Linked DNA regions of Homo sapiens: region 1 is linked to region 2. Evidence: fine-mapped expression QTL. A gene starts in region 2. The other region holds a variant in brackets. All regions are shown on one strand. Distances are between the middles of the regions.

Region 1 (8,829 bases), 26 kb after region 2:
CAGCCTAAAACAACAAACATTATCTCACACTACTTCTGAGGATTAGGAATCTGGGTAGTTGGCCGGGTGTGGTGGCTCACGCCTGTAATCCCAGCACTTTGGGAGGCTGAGGTGGGCAGATCACGAGGTCAGGAGTTCGAGACCATCCTGGCCAACCTGGTGACACCCTGTCTCTACTAAAATACAAAAATAAGCTGGGTGTGGTGGCATGTGCCTGTAATCCCAGCTACTCAGGAGGCTGAGACACAAGAATCGCTTGAACCTAGGAGGCGGAGGTTGCAGTGAGCCGAGATCGTGCCACTGCACTCCAGCCTGGGCGACACAGCAAGACTCCGTCTCAAAAAAAAAAAAAAATCCACCTCTTGAAGGGAGAAGTATCAAAGAAATTGTAGATATAGTTTTAAACTACCACACAAAATTTACTTGGAAATTATATCAAAGGATTTGGACTGACAATGTACTAATTTTTTAAAATTAAAAATACAATTTATCAACACATGAGAAATGAACAAATTTAGTAATAACTAAGAAATATACAAACAAGTCGGGCGTGGTGGCTCATGCTGAGGTGGTAGGATCACTTGAACCTAGGAATTCGAGGCTACAGTGAGCTATAATCGTGCCACTGCATTCCAGCCTGGGTAACAGAGTGAGGCCCCATCTTAATAAAAATAGGCTGGGTGCAGTGGTTTACGCCTGTAATCCCAGCACTTTGGGAGGCCAAGAGTTCAAGACCAGCCTAGGCAACATAGTGAGACCCACCCCCCCATCTCTATAAAATATATATAATTAAAAAATTAGCCAGGTGAGGTGCTTGTGCCTATGATCTCAGCTACTCTGGAAGCTGAGGCAGGAGGATCGCTTGAGCCCATGAGGTTGAGGCTGCAGTGAGCCGTAACTGAGCTACTGCACTCCAACCTAGGCAACAGAGCAAGACCCTGTCTCATAAAAAAAAAAAGCACAAACAACTAATAATATACATTTGTTAATTATTGAGTATGTGTCAGTCATAGAATTCAGTGCTTTACATGCATCATTTTATTTAATCTTCATCACTCCGCATTGATGTAGGAACTGATTTTTATAGATGAGGAACTGGAGGCTTATTGAGGTAAAATGACTTGGCCAAAGTCACGCAGCTGGTTGTGATCACAATACTGTTTTTCAGTATTCTGGTATTCCCACATATCCTCATATTTTAAAGTACCAAAACAGAACTTTAGTTGAGGCGAAATAATTCCTTTTATTTATTTATTTAGTTTTTTTGAGACAGAGTATCGCTCTGTCACTCAGGCTGGAGTGCAGTGGCACAATCTGGGATCACTGCTACCTCCGCCTCCCGGGTTCAAGAGATTCTTCTGCCTCAGCCTCCCGAGTAGCTGGGACTATAGGTGCACACCACCATGCCTGGCAAATTTTTGTATTTTTTTAGTAGGGACGGAGTTTCACTACGTTGGTCAGGCTGGTCTTGAACTCCTGACCTCCACCTGCCTCGGCCTCCCAAAGTGCTGGGATTACAGGCGTGAGCCACTGCGCCCGGCCCTAAGTGAAATAATTCTTTAAGCATTAAAAAAAGAGATCTGACTTCTAGATCATTTGTAAATGAGGTATAGCTGCATTAAAAATTTGAACACACAAGGGCTTATTTGTTTAGAAAGCATTGTTGCATTCCACAGACTTCAAAAGGAGAAAAAAATGTCAATGGACAAAACAAGCTTCTGTTGCGACAACAGTTATTCTAGTTCAAAGACTCTTTAAACAAGTAGACCTTAGAAACAGGACATTAAATTTTAAATGAGTTTTCTGCATCAGAATCTCAATCTATATTCAATGAAATTGAAAAAGATGGATATAGGGCTCTGCATGGTGGCTCATGCCTGTAATCCCAGCTTTTTGGGAGGCTGAGACAGAAGGATCCCTTGAGCCCAGAAGTTTGAGGCTGCAGTGAGCCATGATCATGCTATTGCACTCCAGAATGGGTGACAGAGTGAGACCCGATCTCTAAAAAATAAATAAATAAATAAAAAATAACTGAGAAAAGATGGATTCAAACCAAAAATATGTCCTTTGAAGAAAAAACTAGAGCTCACCAGAATTTAAAACAAAAAAACACATCTATGCAAAGAAACAAAATAATTGTTCAAAAAGATCTCATCCAGGATCATGAGAGCTATTTTTTTAAAAAAAGGAAAAAAAATAAAACTCCTCAAAGTTACCAAACAAGAGATGAGATTATTTAAACAAGAAATAATGAAATAACTATGTGAAGTTAAATTATAACCATCTCTTTACCATTCTCCTGAGTAGTATAACACCAGAAAGAGCTTTTTAGAAGCTAGCAAAATTTGCACAAAAAATACATTTGCAACTTAACAGTAACACCTTTATATATTTTAAGAGATCTCTATTCTTTTTGAGACAGAGTCTCACTCTGTTGCCCAGGCTGGAGCGCAATGGTGCCATCGTGGCTCACTGCAAGCTCCGCCTCCCGGGTTCCCGCCATTCTCCCTCCTCAGCCTCCCGAATAGCTGGGACTACAGGCGCCCGCCACCACGCCCGGCTATTTTTTTGTATTTTTAGTAGAGACAGGGTTTCACTGTATTAGCCAGGATGGTCTCGATCTCCTGACCTCGTGATCCACCCACCTTGGCCTCCCAAAGTGCTGGGATTACAGGTGTGAGCCACCATGCCCGGCCAAGAGATCTCTAGTCTTAAATAAAGCAGGCCAGGAATGGTGGCTCACACCTGTAATCCCAGCACTTTGGGAGGCCGAGGTGGGTGGATCATTTGAGGTTAGGAGTTCGAGACCAGCCTGACCAACATGGTGAAACCTCATCTCTACTAAAAATACAAAAATTAGCTGGGTGTGGTGGTGCGTGCTTGTAATACCAGCTACTCAGAAGGCTGAGGCAGGAGAGTTGCTTGAACCCAGCTTGAACCCGGGAGGCAGGGGTTGTGGTCAGTGGAGATCGCGCCACTGCACTCCAGCCTGGGCAACAGAGTGAGACTCCATCTCAAAAAATAAAAAAATAAAAAGAGCAAATAATTTTATTTTCAATTATTTATGATTACATTTTCATTTTTATTAGAGTTTAATTTTTTACTTTAACATGTTATTACTTCTGTTGATTTATATTAAAATAATTATATTTAAGTCATATTTCTACATTTAGTTATATATAAATATATACATAAATGTTTGTCTTTCAAAGGTATTAAGCATTTTGTTTTTAATGTTGAACATTTTGCTTTAAAAATAAATTACCATTTTATATAAAATAAATACTGAAATACTAGTGAAGTCACTGTGCACTGGTCTTTCCATTTCTAACCGCTGGTAATTACTGGCACTGGGATTTGAACTCAGAATAGCTCCAGTTTTACATTTCGTCTAAATCAGGGTTTCTCAAAGACTGTACTACTGACATTTTGAGCCAGATAATTATTATTTGGTGGTAGGTGGGGCTGACTGTCTTATTCATTGTAGAATGTTTTTTGTTTGGTTGGTTTTGGGTTTTTGTTTTGTTTTGTTTTTTTGTTTTTGAGACAGGGTCTCACTTTGTTGCCCAGGCTGGAGTGCAGTGGCATGAACACAGCTCACCTGCAGCCTCAACCTCCTGGGCTCAAGTGATCCTCCCACTTCAGCCTCCCAAGTATATGGGGACTACAGTTGTGTGCCACCACACTCAGCTAATTAGAAAATTTTTTTTTTAATTTTTAATGTGTGTGGGTACATTGTAGGTGTATATATTTATGGGGTACATGAGATATTTTGATACAGGCATGCAATGAGTAATAATGACACCAGGGCAAATGGGGGTATCCATCACCTCAAGCATTTATCCTTTGTGTTACAAACAATCCAATTATACTCTTTTAGTTATTTTTAAATGTACAATTAAATTATTTTTGACTATAGTCACTCTGTTGTGCTAGCAAATACTAGGTCTTATTCATTCTTTCTAATTTTTAAAATTTTTGTAGCGCCTGGGTCCCGCCATGTTGCCCAGGCGACGTAGAATGTTTAGTATCATCCTCGCTTGCTTGCCACCCATTTGATGCCAAAAGACACCCCCCTCCTACCTCCCCACCCCCCAAATATCCCCTGGAGGCAAAATTGCCCTGGTGGATCACCACTGATCTAACTGATAGTACCCTCTGGTTATATGGGAAAACTGCTAAACTTGGAAGCAGGAGGTGAGTTTGAACCCTAGTTTTTGCCACCTGAATATAGATGTTTATACACACACATTTCAAAACAATACAAAAATTACCTGGCTGTTCAGCTTCATATCTCTCCCCATTTCCTTCCTCTAATGGGATATTCCAACCCCAGAACAGCAGGTGTTTATAACCCTCCCTTCTCATTCCTCTCTTGTATTTGCATCTTTCAGTCAGGACCACTTTTCTGTCCATCTCACCTGGACAATCCTGAGTCACTCTTCAAGACTGAGCTCAGACAAGCTAAAGGCAGGCCCCTGAAAGGCAGAGGTGGCTAGCCCCATGGCAGGAGAGGGCTTAGAGGCTGTGATTAAAGATTCAAAGCCACTAGGACCTTGGTTTTAATGTTAAGGGACCACCTAAACTTTCCTGAAGATGAGGCTAATTCTGGCTGAGGGAAAACAAAAGAAGCCAGGAAGCTTCTCAGGAAGTAAAACTGAGGAACAGAGCTCGAATCTGACTCAAGAAAGCAGGTTTGAAGAGACAGAACACAAATAAGCCTTGCATTCCTTGAAAACAGATTCCCAACAAATGATAGGAGGTGGGGTTCAGGAGAAGGTCCAGACAGCCTCTCCATTTTTTTTTTCTTTGAGACAGAGTCTTGCTCTTGTTGCCCAGGCTCTAGTGCAGTGGCGCGATCTAGACTCACTGCAACCTCCACCTTCCAGTTTCAAGAGATTCTCCTGCCTCAGCCTCCCGAGTAGCTGGGATAACAGGCGCCTACCACCATGCCTGGCTAATTTCTGTATTTTTAGTAGAGACACGGTTTCACCATGTTGGCCAGGCAGGTCTCGAACTCCTGACCTTGTGATCTGCCTGCCTTAGCCTCCCAAAGTGCTGGGATTACAGATGTGAGCCACCGCACCTGGCCGCCTCCCTTATCTTAACAAACTCCTCAGACTGTGCAGGGTTTTTTTTCGCGTTTTTTTGTTTTTGTTTTTGAGACGGAGGCTTGCTCTGTTGCCCAGGCTGGAGTGCAGTGGTGTGATCTCAGCTCACTGCAATCTCCGCCTCCCAGGTTCAAGTGATTCTCCTGCCTCAGCCTCCTGAGCAGCTGGGACTACAGGCATGTGTCACCATGCCCAGCTAATTTTTGTATTTTTAGTAGAGATGGGTTTCTCCGTGTTGGCCAGGCTGGTCTCAAACTCCTGACCTCAGGTAATCCACCCGCCTCGGCCTCCCAAAGTGCTGAGATTACAGGCGTGAGCCACCGCACCCAGCCTGTTTTGTTTTGTTTTGAGATGGAGTCTCCCTCTGTAGCCCAGGCTGGAGTGCAGTGGTGTGATCTTGACTCACTGCAACCTCTGCCCTCTGGGTTCAGGCAATCTCCTGCCTCAGTCTCCCAAGTAGCTGGGATTACAGGCGTGAGCCACCATGCCCAGCTATTTTTCTTTTTCTTTTTTCTTTTTTTTTTTTTTTCTGAGACGGAGTCTCCCTCCGTCGCCCTGGCTGGAGTGCAATGGCAGGATCTCGGCTCACTGCAAC[T/C]TCCGCCTCCCTGGTTCAAGCAATCCTCGTGCCTCAGCCTCCCAAGTAGCTGGGATTACAGGCGTCCACTACCAAGGCTGACTCATTTTTTTTTTTTTTTTTTTTTGAGACAGAGTCTCACTCTGTCGCCCAGGCTGGAGTGCAGTGGCACAATCTCGGCTCACTGCAAGCTCTGCCTCCTGGGTTCATGCCATTCTCCCGCCTCAAGCCTCCCGAGTAGCTGGGACTACAGGCACCCGCCCCCACGCCCGGCTAATTTTTTGTATTTTTAGTAGAGACCGGGTTTCACCATGTTAGCCAGGATGGTCTCGATCTCCTGACCTCATGATCCGCCCACCTCAGCATCCCAAAGTGCTGGGATTACAGGAGTAAGCCACCGCGCCCAGCTTCTAACCTCTACTTTTTGAAAAATAATTTCCTCCCATCCAGTTTCTGTTTTGGGCACTCCTGTTCATAAAATCTTGAAACTCCTGGACTGATATTCTACTTTGCTTATTTTCCATTCCTTTACATTTTTTTGTTCTACTTCCTATATTTTCTCAACTTTATGTTGTACCCATTCTTTGGAATGTGCTATATTTCTGTGATTATATTTTTAAAAATGTCTAAGAGCTTTATTTTCTGAATATCCTTCCCCCTGTCCTCCCCACCCCCCATTTTATGAGATAGAATTTCACTATGTTGCTCAATCTGGACTCCAACTCCTGGGCTTGAGCAAACCTCTTGCTTCAGCCTCCTGTGTAGCTGGGATTACAGGTACACACCATTACACCTGGCTTGAATATCCCTTTTTATGTTTTTTTGCTCCTGTGTGTTAAATGAAAAATCTGCTCCCTGAGCTGGGCACAGTGGCTCACACCTGTAATCCCAGCACTTTGGAAGGCCAAGGCGGGTGGATCACCTGAGGTCGGGAGTTCGAGACCAGCCTGACCAACATGGAGAAACCCCGTCTCTACTGAAAATACAAAATCAGTCGGGCATGGTGGTGCATGCCTGTAATCCCAGCTACTAGGGAGGCTGAGGCAGGAGAATCGCTTGCACCTGGGAGGTGGAGGTTGTGGTGAGCCGAGATCGTGCCACTGCACTCCAGCCTGGGCAACAAGAGTAAAACTCCATCTCAAAAAAAAAAAAAATCTGCTTCCTGAGTACACTGTATTAATATTAATCATTTTCTTTTTTTTTTTTTTTTGAGACAGAGTCTTACTCTGTCGCCTAGGCTGGAGTGCAGTGGCACTATCTCAGCTCACTGTAACCTCTGCCTCCCGGGTTCAAGTGATTCTCCTGCCTCAGTCTCCCGAGTAGCTGGGATTACAGGCGCCTGCTACCAAGCCCAGCTAATTTTTGTATTTTTAGTAGAGACAGGGTTTCGCCATGTTGGCCAGTCTGGTCTCAAACTCCTGACCTCAAGTGATCCAACTGCCTTGGCCTCCCAAGGTGCTGGAATTACAGGCGTGAGCCACCACGCCTGGCCTAATCATTCTCTTTTTTTTTTTTTTTTTTTTTTTTTGAGACAGAGTCTCACTCTGTTGCCCAGGCTGGAGTGTAGTGGCGCCATCTTGGCTCACTGCAACCTCTGCCTCCTGGGTTCAAGCGATTCTCCTGCCTCAGCCTCCCAAGTAGCTGGGACTATGGGCACCCACCACCACACCAGCTAATTGTTGTATTTTTCGTAGAGACAGGGTTTTACCATGTTGGCCAGGCTGGTCTCGAACTCCTGACCTCAGGTGATCTGCCCACCTCAGTCTCCCAAAGTGTTGGGATTACAGGCGTGAGCCACTGCCCCCAGCCCTGAGCATTCTTAATAAGTTATATTATTATATTATTAGTAGTCTAGTTATATAAATTATATTTTTACATTCCCTGCATTGTACTTGTTTTCCTCCTCACCACCATTTATGTCTTTATTTTGGCTTCTGTCTTTCATGGAAGAGACTTCCCTCAAACCCTGGTTTGCTCCTTCATATCTGAGCAGAGGCACTTAAAGGCCAACTGAATGCTCTCTAAAATTCGAAGATTTGCATCTTCCCTGCAGGGTGAGGTGGCAGAGACAACCATTGTGTTGAGATCCCTCAATGCCCAGAGAATTTTTAGGCTGCTCGGTTCTTCCAGAGAAGAACCCTGCAGCCTCTGGCCTGGGGACCATGAACCTGGCTGCTAGTGCTCTAGAGTCAGGAGAAAATAGCTGCAGTTTCTCTCCCTCTTCACCCTCAGCTGGCTGACAACCTGAAGCCCAGGGACCCATTGCTTCATTCTCTCCAGAGAACCCAGATACCTCCTGCCTTTTCTGGGGGGGCAGTGGGAGAGGGGCAGTCACCCAGCTGCCCAGGCTGGAGGAGGGAACATGAGGGTCTAACTGCTCCTTATGTCGAGTTTAAACTCACCCTTCATTTCCAGCCCCCTCCTTCCACCCCTACCTTTGGAAAGCTTGATGCTCCCAGTCCCAAGCCTTTCAGCGGCAACGAAGTCAACACTGGCCTGCCGCTTGTTGTTCCCACCGTTTCAACTTCCTCGGACCCTAGTCAGTTTTCCTTCTTCCATCAGATGTTTAGCTCCCAAAATGTTTTTGTCATATCTTCATGTATTGTTTTCGCTTCTGTTCTCCTTATTGTTTTACTGTTATTTTGGTGGGGTTTGGGAAGGAAGCAAACATAAAATCACATGCATTCATTTTACCACATTTAGCAGAGTCTCTTTCACCTCTCACCTCTTGCACCCTCAGACTCCTCTGAGCTCTACTTGAAGGTCATCCATAACCTTTGTGCTGCTCTCCCCAGGCCCCGCCTCTGGCTAGAGTGCATTTGGCATCTTGTCTGCCTGAAGCACTCTCACTGTGCCTCCCCAGCCTCACTCTTGGCCATTACTGGCTCCCATTTCCGTGTCCTGCACCTTCCCATTAGAGCATCGGTTTCAAACGTGGAGTTATGAAATTAGTGGGCTGTGCAATCAATTCGGTGCAGCTTAAACAACATTGATTTTATATTTATATACATTGGGAGGAGATGTAAGATATATTTCTTACCGTAGGTCAAAGCTGAAAAACTTGGAAAGCCACTGTATTCGGTCCTTCTCACTTTGAACTAGTTGCTGCATCTAAGACCTGACAACTCCAGTTGGTATTTAGCA
Region 2 (9,896 bases):
TGATACAGTGCCTCATGCACAGGAGTTCCGTGGTGATTTGTTCACTTCCCCACTCTCTTAGCCCAAAGTCTAATCTTAGGCACCTCCCCAAGTAAGATAGTTGATGTGAGGTGCTAGGCACACCTGGCAATCAATCGGTGTAAGTTCCTGTCCTTCTTCTTCCCCTCTAGCTCCATCCTACCCCACTCCCATCCCAGGTCCACGTACCTGGATAAGACCCACTTTGCCCACGTTGGGGAAGCTGGATGCAGTGCCCATGGGGCTTCCCAGCAGCCCGGCCAGCACACTGCCCAGCCCCTCCAGGCTCAGCCCTCGACTGCAGGCATGTGGAGGTGGGGGAGGCAAATGCAGCAGCCGGCCACACAGGGCATAGCAGCCCAGGGAACTGGTGGAGGCTGCCAAGGCCATGGAGATGCCTGCAGCCAGAGCTCTGGGCGTCAGCAAAGGCCAATTCCACTCACCTGGGGAGGGAGAAGAAGCCACTTTGGGGCCAGACTCAAGTCAGGAGTACCCCCTGCCTCCAACAGCCTGTGCCACAAGAATCCTAGATGCCTCAATGTCTTTGAAGACAATGTCTTGGGACAAAACTACTGAACTCTAAGGAGAAAGACCCATGCCTTTACCATGGTCTACAAGGTCCTCTTTGGTCTGGCCCTTCCCTCTCTCTGCAGCCTTATCTCCCAGCACACTCTGCCTCACTTCCTTCATTCCTGCCACACTGGCCTTGTTGTAGGCCTTTGTACATGCTGTGCTCCCAGCCACCACAGGGCCTTTGCATATGCAGTTTCCTGCAACTAGAATGCGCTTCCCTCCTGCCTTTGTCTAGTTAGCTCCTACTCATCTCTTCCATCTCAACTCAGTGGCCACATCCTCAAGAATATCCTTACTTAGGCGGGGTGCAGTAGCTCACGCCTGTAATCCCAGCACTTTGGGAGGCCAAGGCAGGTGGCTCACCTGAGGTCAGGAGTTTGTGACCAGCCTGGCCAACATGGTGAAACCCCATCTCTACTAAAAATACAAAATTAGCCAGGCATGGTGGTGCATGCCTGTAATCCCAGCCACTTGGGAGGTGGAAGCAGGAGAATCACTTGAACCCGGAAGGCGGAGGTGCAGTTAGCCAAGATCACACCATTGCACTCCAGCCTGGGCGACAAGAGTGAAACTCCATTTCAAAAAAAAAAAAAAAATTTACTGACCTCCCTGATAAATTCAAATTCCCTATTATAAGTTTTTTGGTTTGTTTGTTTGTTTTGAGACAGGTCCTTGCTCTGTTACCCAGGCTGAAGTGCAGTAATGCAATCATAGCTCACTGCAGCCTCAATCTCTCGGGCTCAAGCGATCCTCCCACCTTAGCCTCTGAAGTAACTGGGACTAAAGGTGCATGCCACCATATCTGGCTAATTTTTTATACTGTTAATAGAGACGAGGTCTCACTATGTTGCCCAGGCTGGTCTCTAACTCCTGAGCTCAAGCAATCCTCCCACCTCAGCCTCCCAAAGTGCTGGAATTTCAGGTGTGAGCCATGGTGCCTGGCTATTTTATTTTATTTTATTTTATTTATTTTATTTTAATTTATTTTATTTTATTTTTATAAACAAGGTCTCACTCTGTCGCCTGGGCTAGAATGCAGTGGTGCAATCATAGCACACCGCAGCCTCCAACTCCTGGGCTCAAGTGATCCTCCTGCCTCAGTCTCCTGAGTAGCTAGGCCTACAAGCATGTGCCACTAGGCCCAGCTAATTTTTTTATGTTTTGTAGAGTGGAGTCTTGCTTTATTACCCAGGCTGCTCTCGAAATCCTTGCCTCAAGCAGTCTTCCTGCTTCTGCCTCCCAAAGTGCTGGGATTATAGGTGTGAGCCACTGTGCCTGGCCTCCATTATAAGCTCTTAGGACACAATGTATCTCCCTTTGGTTACACTTCCCACAATGGCAATTTTATATTTCCTCGGGTGACTCTTTAATTAGTATCTGTATTCCCCAATAGACTGTAAGCTCCCTGAAGGCAAGTACTGTTTCTGTCATGTTCATCACTATGTCCTCTACCATGTGCCTAGCACATAATCAGCAGTCAACAGATCCTTATTAAATTAATGAACAACCAGCCTGGACAACATGGCGAAATCCCGTCTCTACAAAACAACACAAAAATTAGCCAGGCATGGTGGTGCACGCTTGTAATCCCAGCTACTTGTGGGGCTGAGGCACAAGGATAGCTTGAGCCAAGGAGGTTGAGGCTGCAGTGAGCCATGTTTGCATCAATGCTCTCAGCCTGGGTAACACAGCAAGACCCTGTCCCAAAAAGTAAATTAAATAAATAAATAAATTGAAGAATGAGCAAATTTCACATACAATGCCTCAAAAGCAATCTTTATACATAGGTTGCCAAGTCAAATGCCCATAGGGGCTGGTAACATAAATGTGTTCATTGGGTAAGGAGTATTGGTAGTGAGTATCGGGGGTTACAGAAACAACAGATGTCTGTCTCCTAACACTGACCCAAATAAAACACCTGCAGTGGGATGGGGCACAGTGGCTCATGCCTGTAATCCCAGCATTTAATCAAGCAGATCACTTGAGCCCAGGAGTTTGAGACCAGCCTGGGCAACATGGTGAAACCCTGTCTCTACAAAAAAAAAAAAAAAAAAAAAAGCACACCTGTAGTCCCAGCTACTCCGGAGGCTTAGGTGGGAGGATCACCTGGGCCTGGGAGGTTGAGGTTGCGTGAGCCATGATCACGCCATGCACTCCACCCTGTATGACAGAGTGAGACCCTGTCTCAAACAAACAAACAAAAAAACACCTACAGTGAGGGGCTAGCATTGTCTGTCTCTCAGACTGATAATTTCTCTCTCCTATATGTTTTCAAAAAACACAGGATTTAACTCAGAAATAAAATCCATTAAGTTCTTTGAGTTCAAATAGATACCTTTATTTGAACAAGAGAATGGAGGACTAGGAGAAAACCTACCTGGGTGAGGCAGCCAAATCCATGGTGCCTTGGTGGGGGCAGACAGTTCCTGGGGGATAACACTGAATCCCACAAAGGCAGAAACAATCCACACACAGGCCACTGGGATCAGCACCTGAGGGGCGAGACTGAGAAAAGAACTCCTCCCCCAGAACCTTCTGAGCCAGCCTTGCAGGGGTAGACAGAAGCCAAAAGGTAGGGGATGGAGTGAGCACTCCAGGCCAGCCCTTCTGACCTCTACTGCCCTGCCCAGACCCACACATACCGAAAGGAGCCGGAAGACAGGGAGAGGAGTGTGAGTTGATGACGTTGAAGCTCGCCTCCAGGGGCACACATGAAACTGGCAGGAGCCCAGGTGCTGAGAACAGACCACCATGAGCAGGATAACCCTAGGAGACAGAAGGCTTTAGGAGCAAGAGGCAGTGGGTATCCTGAGGGATGGGAAAGGAGGTGGGAGTGGGCAGAATATCATAAGAGCGGGGGGTGATACCAGAGAAGGAAACTCCCATGGAAGGAATAGGAAGTGACCTTGGGGGACAGCAGAAAACAGTGTGAAATTCAAGGAGACCAGATGAATCAAGGAAAAGTCTTGGATTCCAAATATAAAATATGTCCCTATTCCAGTCGCTGCTGAATCTGATAGGACCAGCAGTTCTGCCCTCCCCTAGTCCCCCCATACACCCCCACTGGGCACCATCCCACGCCTCTCAGGACTCACGTACAGCAAGGCCAACCCCCAGTGTGTGAAGCAGAACTGGGCTACCTCCCTGTGGGCAGAGAGCCCTGCCACAACCAGGCTGGGAGCCAGCACCAGGGGCCCACAGTGGGGGAACACGTGGCCGGGACTCCCCAGCAGCCCCATCATGCCCTGCAGCAGCCCAGATACTACCACTGCCCCGGACACCTGGTAGAAGAGAGGAGAGGATGGAGAGAAAACATTCTGCTCAATCAAACTGGCCTCAGCCTGGTCTTCCTAATTCTAAGTATGGGTTCCTCCCAAAACTCCTTTCCAGGAGCATCTCAGTCTGTGCATAATGGAAACAAGAGCCCCCCCCAAGCCTGGCACCACCCTTATCCCTTCTCACCTCCAGATACCCACCTCCTGGAGAGAAGTGTTCCAGTGCCCCAGGCCATGGCAGCTAGGTCCCCTACAAAGGTGCAGCATGAGGGAGGCTAGGAAAAGTTTGGGGCATGGAGAAGAGAAGGGTGAATGGAATGGAGACCCATTGCTCTACAGTCCCACTCCTGGCACAGGTCCAAGCCCCCTATAGTGTCACAGTCTCACCACTGCCCAATCTCAATTCTGCACCCACCTACACCTGCATGCTCAGATGAGAACCCAGCCCCACCCTTACCCCTTGCCCTTGCTCTGTGCTCACAGTTTCCAGGTGTCTGGATGGCCCGGGGTAGCTTCTGGCTGGTCAGCACCAGAGCAGGGATAAGGAACTCTAAGGATGGAGCCTGGACAAGAGGCAGCCTGTAGGAACAGCAGCCCCAGCAGGTCTGGGACTATGTGGCAGCCAGCAAGGCTCCCCCAAACCTCTCCTACCCTCCAGGACTCTGCCCCTCTCTCCAGGGAGGTTCCTCTCACCTGCTGCCCATCCAAGTTTGCAGGATGGTAGACATACCACATGAAAAGAAGCTGGAGGCCAGGAGCTGAGAAGGGGAGTAAGAGAGTCCTCCTGGGGAGAGACTGCAAAGCAGGAGCAGGTGGGAGACACAGAGCAGAGAAGCCATGACCAAGACATGCTGCAGGTGGAGGAATGGGGAGGGCAGTCTTCAGAGAAGTGGAAATACCTACAATACTTCCAGAGGCTTTCACATGCCACATCTACACCTACTTCCCCACACACACCATCAGGCAGCACCAACTCCTGCACCTCTGCCTCCTACCTGCAGAGCCAGAAGACAGCTGAGGCCCCAAGGCAGAGATCCACACAAAGGGTCCCAAGAGTGGGTGGAGGGATTCTGGGGAGCAGGTGGAGGCAAGGGGGCCAGGGCATCCTGGGAGCCCACTGATCGGAGTTGGCTGGGATTGAGGGGTGATCGGCTCATGCTGCCTTGCCTTTCGCTTTGTCTTGGCTGCCCGGGACCAGAGTTAAGTAGAGAGAGTAAGAGGTCAGAGTTTGGGTGAAGCCTGGGGTGGGGAGAAGGTGGGGAGAGGGTGGGGGTGTCAATGAAGCGGAGCAAAGGTATAAGGAATTTGGGGCAGGGCACCACCCTTTCACCTTTGCCCAGCTGTTGTGCAAATTCCATCAGCCATTAACTGGGGAGCTGAGTTCTGGGGCCCTCCCCCGAGAATCTTCTTCCAGATTTCCTGCCCCTAGACCAGGCTGTAGAAAGTAGGATAGGAGGGGTGGGGAGGAGAGGAGCTCTTCAAAATAATATGGGGAAATTTTGCAGACTTTATTCCCTCCCATTTAAAACTATCACTATTTGATCCACAGTCCTCACCCCTTTCAGAACCAAGGCCCCTGGACTACTTCAAAATGAAACTTGTGGGCTCAGTATGGTGGCTCATGCCTGTAATCACACCACTTTGGGAGGCCGAACTGGGTGTATCACTTGAGGTGAGGAGTTCAAGACCAGCCTGGCAACATGGTGAAACCATCTCTACTAAAAATACAAAACTTAGCTGGATGTGGTGGCACATCCCTGTAATCCCACCTACTCGGGAGGCTGAGGCACAAGAATTGCTCGAACCCAGAAGGCGGAGGTTGTAGTGAGCTGAGACCGTGCCACTGCACTCCAGCCTGGGTGACAGAGTGAGACTGTGTCAAAAAAAAAAAGAAAAAAGAAAAAAAGAAACTTGTGGACAATATATCCTACATCACATGTGACAACCACAACTACCTGAAACATGCTCACTGTAAAGAATAAAATTTATAATAACATGTATTTCATTACGTGAAGGCTTAAGCACAACTAAACCAGAAGACAATAAAGTACAATGAAGTAGTCCAATCCCACACCCTATGAGAATTGCTGTGGTTGCAATAGCTGCAATGCCAGCTGATATTGGTGCTTTATCGGTGACTCTGATGTTGGTAACCCGATTTTCAAAATGGCAAACAAACTCTTGGTTAAGGTGCCAAGCAAAATAAAGTCGTCTTAATTTACATGGGAATGAATTCCTAGCAAACTGAGTCTTTTCAAAACGCACAAACGCTATTTCACGTTTACATGTGCAAAGACAGTTCTAGGCTCAGATAAACAGGGTTTTCATATACATAAAGCTGGTCATTCAAAAGTTGTCTTGGGAATTCTTCACAGTACGGGAGGTCTGAGCATTTCATGATGTCTAGCATCCCGCCCAGGTTGACGAAATGCCAGTAGCACCCCATCCCCTTGAATCCTTTTGACAATGAAAAAATAGCCCATAAATTTCCAAAATGCCCCCTAGGGGGCAGAACCACTTCTTCCGTGAAGTATCCTCAGCAGTCCCAAATACCCTCAGCCAAGCTGCCCAGACTGTTTTCCTTCCTCCAGTGATGACCCAGCCTTGGAGTTCTTCAAGTTCTTGGAATTGTTAAGCACCATGTGACCATCACCATGTGTCAGACCAGTGAGGAGGTCAGGAGAGAGAAGCGTCCTCGTGGCTTGCCCTCAGGAGCTCACAAGGCTCTGCTGGTTACAAGGCCTGGCCCCTCTCCACGAGATGTGCTTTGGGATCCACAAGGAGAGTGCTTACCCAGAACAAGTGACAGACAAGGCCAACTCAGGGACAGGACAGTCACCATGTGTGTCCCATGGCATCCCAAGTTGAGCAGTGCTAGGGCCCAGGGTCCTGGGAGCAGGAACAAAGTTGGAAATGGAAGCCTATGCCTATCAAACGATAGGAAAGTCCTGAGATGAGGCTGAGAAAACAGTTTGTGAGATGACAGGATCAGGAAGCAGGGAGGCTTGGAAGGCAGATACAGGGAGGAAAAATCTTCAAGGGCTGCCGCAGAAGGAAAAGTCCAGGCCATGCAACTGAAACTGTTTATTGAAACCTCAGTTCTACAAAAGCGTGAAAAACCCTGATACAAAGCAGTGGCCAGAGAGGCCTGGGAAGAGAATACCTGGGAGAAGAACCAGAAGAGAGGGAAACCTAGGAGCAGGACACTAAGAGAAGACTGGAAGACAAAAGATCAGGGTTGAAGGTCCCAGCAGTCCTTGGCTCCATTAGACTAAAGCTAAGGAATGGGAGTGAAAAGGGTTCCCTGCCTCACCCAGCAGCTCCCACCTGAACCCATCAGTCCCCGGCTCTTCTGCCTCAGGGACATCACACAGGCCCATGCCAACATTTCCTTTCTCCTCTCACCCCACTTCCCTTATCTCCCACCTATACTCTTCCATCCTAGGGAAATCAAAAGTAAAAGTCTAAAAAATCCCAGGGAGGCAGAGAGGGGCTTCTATGTCCATCTGGGACATGTCCCTGGTCACCAAGCGGAAGCTCTCCCTGGCGGCATCACTGTCCTGGCCAAGCAGCCAGCCACTGCGATCTAGGAGTGAATTACCTTCAGTCCTTCTGCCCCACCACCCCATAAGCTCCCACCCAGGAGGACAGGGGACCTGCCAAGGACCCAGCGAGGCAGACAGGATCTGAATCAAGCTTTGCTCCTCCAGGTTCTCAGAAACTCCCAAACCCTCTTAATGCATTCCTCACAGCCCTACCTAGCCTGGGAAAACGAAAGACTTGAGGCGAGCCAGCTCCATGACACTGAAAAGGGAACATTGCTGAGGCTGAGGAAGTGAAAGGAGCACCGGGCTCCAAGGCCAGGGGGGAGCCAGGCCATAGGTATGGTACCAGGGGCTGGACAGCGCAGTGGGGACTGTACGGTTGGGGTGGAGGCAGGCATGGCAGGTTGGGGAGTCTCTCTGGAGCTTCTGGCAAAGGTGGCAGTTATGAAGAAGAGTGGGAGGGGCAGGGGGGTCTGGGGGAGGCAATGGTGGAGGAGTCAGTGAGGCCAGAAGACTGCCCCAGAGTGACCGCAGCCCCATGCTGCCTTCCAGGCAGCTGGAGACATTAGCGAGAGACGGCAGGCATTGTGGCACAGAAGGTATGCAGGGCTCCAGGAGGCAACGGGAGGTCAGTCCAAGGTCAGGCGGCCCAGGTGTAGGGATGCAGGACAGCCCCAAAGACTGATGTATTACGGCCACCGATGCCACAGCCAGGGCCACACTGCTCACATATGCCACAGCTAACAGGCAAGACAGCTGCAGGAGAGGAGATAAGAAAGAAGGAATCTGTCTTTAACACATTCACCCCTTGTCTCTAGAAATCTGTGTTCCAGTTGGAGGTCTCTATAGCCATTTACACCCCACTCTGCCCATCTATTCCCAACCCCATCTCCTGGGCTTTTCAGCAATCACTTCACACCATCCCACCCTACACACCGGCCTGCTCAAGCTCCCTATCCTTCCGAGCCCCTCCTCACCTTTACCAGCCGCTGGCAGAGGGAGCCCAGGGCCAACTGCCAGGTCGGCTGCTCCAGCAGCACACACAGGTCTGTGTAGGTGTACCAGCCTCGCCACCGTCCCTGCTGCTCAGCCACACTGGGGGAAGTGGAGAAATGACAAGAGTATGCAACTGTCCTGCAGCCAGCCCAGTGGCACCCTCATACCACTCAGGACCCACCAGGAAACACTGGGAAGCCTGTTAAACCCAGATTCCTAGGCTATCTGCTGATCTAGAAACTAAGGGTGAGACCAAGACCTATATTTTATTTATTTTTATTTATTTATTTTGTTAAGACAGGATCTTGCTGTCTCCCAGGCTGGAGTGCAGTAGTGCAATCATAGCTCACTGCAGACTCAACATCCTGGACTCAAATGATCCTCTTGTCTCAGCCTCCTGAGTAGCTGGGATTATGGGTGTACACCACTGCATCTGGCTAGTATTTTTTTCTGGTAGGGTCAGGCATCTTGCTATATTGCCCAGGCTGGTCTCGAACTCCTGGACCCAAGTAATCCTCCAGCCTCACCCTCCCAGAGTGCTAGGATTATAGACATAACTACCATACCCACCCAATACATGTATTTTAAATAAGCTGCTTCTCACCTTCCCAAAGGTGATGAAGAAGAGGACAGATGGGTCTGGGAACCACTATCTGGGCAATTCTCTTTCTTGTCTCCTCCCTCCCCCAGTTACACAGACTCTCATCTCTAGCTCCTATGGCTGAGGACTCAGCCCCCAAATCCCTCGAGCCCTTCTTCCCAACTCCTAGAACCTACCAGCTCTCCAACCAGCTCAGCACCTCAAAGATCTCCCGAGGGTCAGTGTAGAGATGCCAATCCTGTGAGTACGGAGAGTGGACATCAAACCAGACTTGGATGAGCCACAGTCATTTAATAATAAGAGCCATAGCAGCAACTACAACCGCCCCTATGGCTAATGCATATTTGGCACTTACCATGTGCCAGATACTGTCTCAAAAGTTTTTACACATTAACTCATTGAATCACCACCTGCCTGGTTTCACATTATACTCTCCACTAAGCAAGAGGGGAGAAAATGACCCTGAGAATGGTCTGTGTCCACAGGGAGCTAAACATCTAGGGGCAGAGAAAGTATGGACACAAATATTCAGAACCCAATAGGATAAACTCTGACTCAGAGTGTACCCTGTGGGGCCCTGGAGGAATAGAGGAGGCGAGGAAATGTTCTGCTCTTGGCCTTACTGCTCTACGAATCTCCAAAAACTGGTTAGTACTGAAGAGATAGGAAAGGAAGACACTAACACAAAGGCAGGAGGAGGACAGGAAGAGAAATGACGAACCAACAGAAGACTGAGAGAGAACAAAGGACTAAAGGACGGTTAAAGATGGGCCAGGGAAACTGAGCAAGAGAGAGAACAGCTGCTCACCATGGCACTCAGGAAGCCCCTCTCCAAGGCATTGAGAGTGGGCACGGCCACACCCCCAGCAGCTCCCCATTCGTCGTTGA

Which allele goes with the higher level. Alleles are on the strand shown, and positions count from the first base shown. SD is a standard deviation of normalised expression in the study named.
For the expression in unexposed skin of the gene that starts at base 5,068 in region 2, allele T in region 1 goes with a higher level than allele C (small effect, 0.26 SD a copy in GTEx).

The links. PIP is the estimated chance that this variant, and not a neighbour inherited with it, causes the effect.
Region 1: its variant is fine-mapped to the expression of SLC23A3 in unexposed skin (GTEx, PIP 0.90).

What each region holds. Positions count from the first base shown.
Region 1 is chr2:219,191,173-219,200,001 of GRCh38, forward strand. No RefSeq gene overlaps it. Among named protein-coding and RNA genes, the nearest start is that of ZFAND2B, 11 kb to the right of the region's middle. The variant T/C (reference allele first, on the strand shown) is at 5,707.
Region 2 is chr2:219,164,962-219,174,857 of GRCh38, forward strand. It overlaps SLC23A3 (solute carrier family 23 member 3), which reads right to left and starts at 5,068. Exons shown (of 12, transcript NM_001144889.2): 1 at 4,862-5,068; 2 at 4,560-4,717; 3 at 4,348-4,445; 4 at 4,068-4,141; 5 at 3,691-3,872; 6 at 3,234-3,357; 7 at 2,969-3,083; 8 at 208-461. The coding sequence starts at 5,023. It overlaps CNPPD1 (cyclin Pas1/PHO80 domain containing 1), which reads right to left. Exons shown (of 8, transcript NM_015680.6): 5 at 9,817-9,896; 6 at 9,185-9,246; 7 at 8,389-8,506; 8 at 6,936-8,167. The coding sequence ends at 7,625. RefSeq lists enhancers at 6,355-6,514, 6,565-6,614.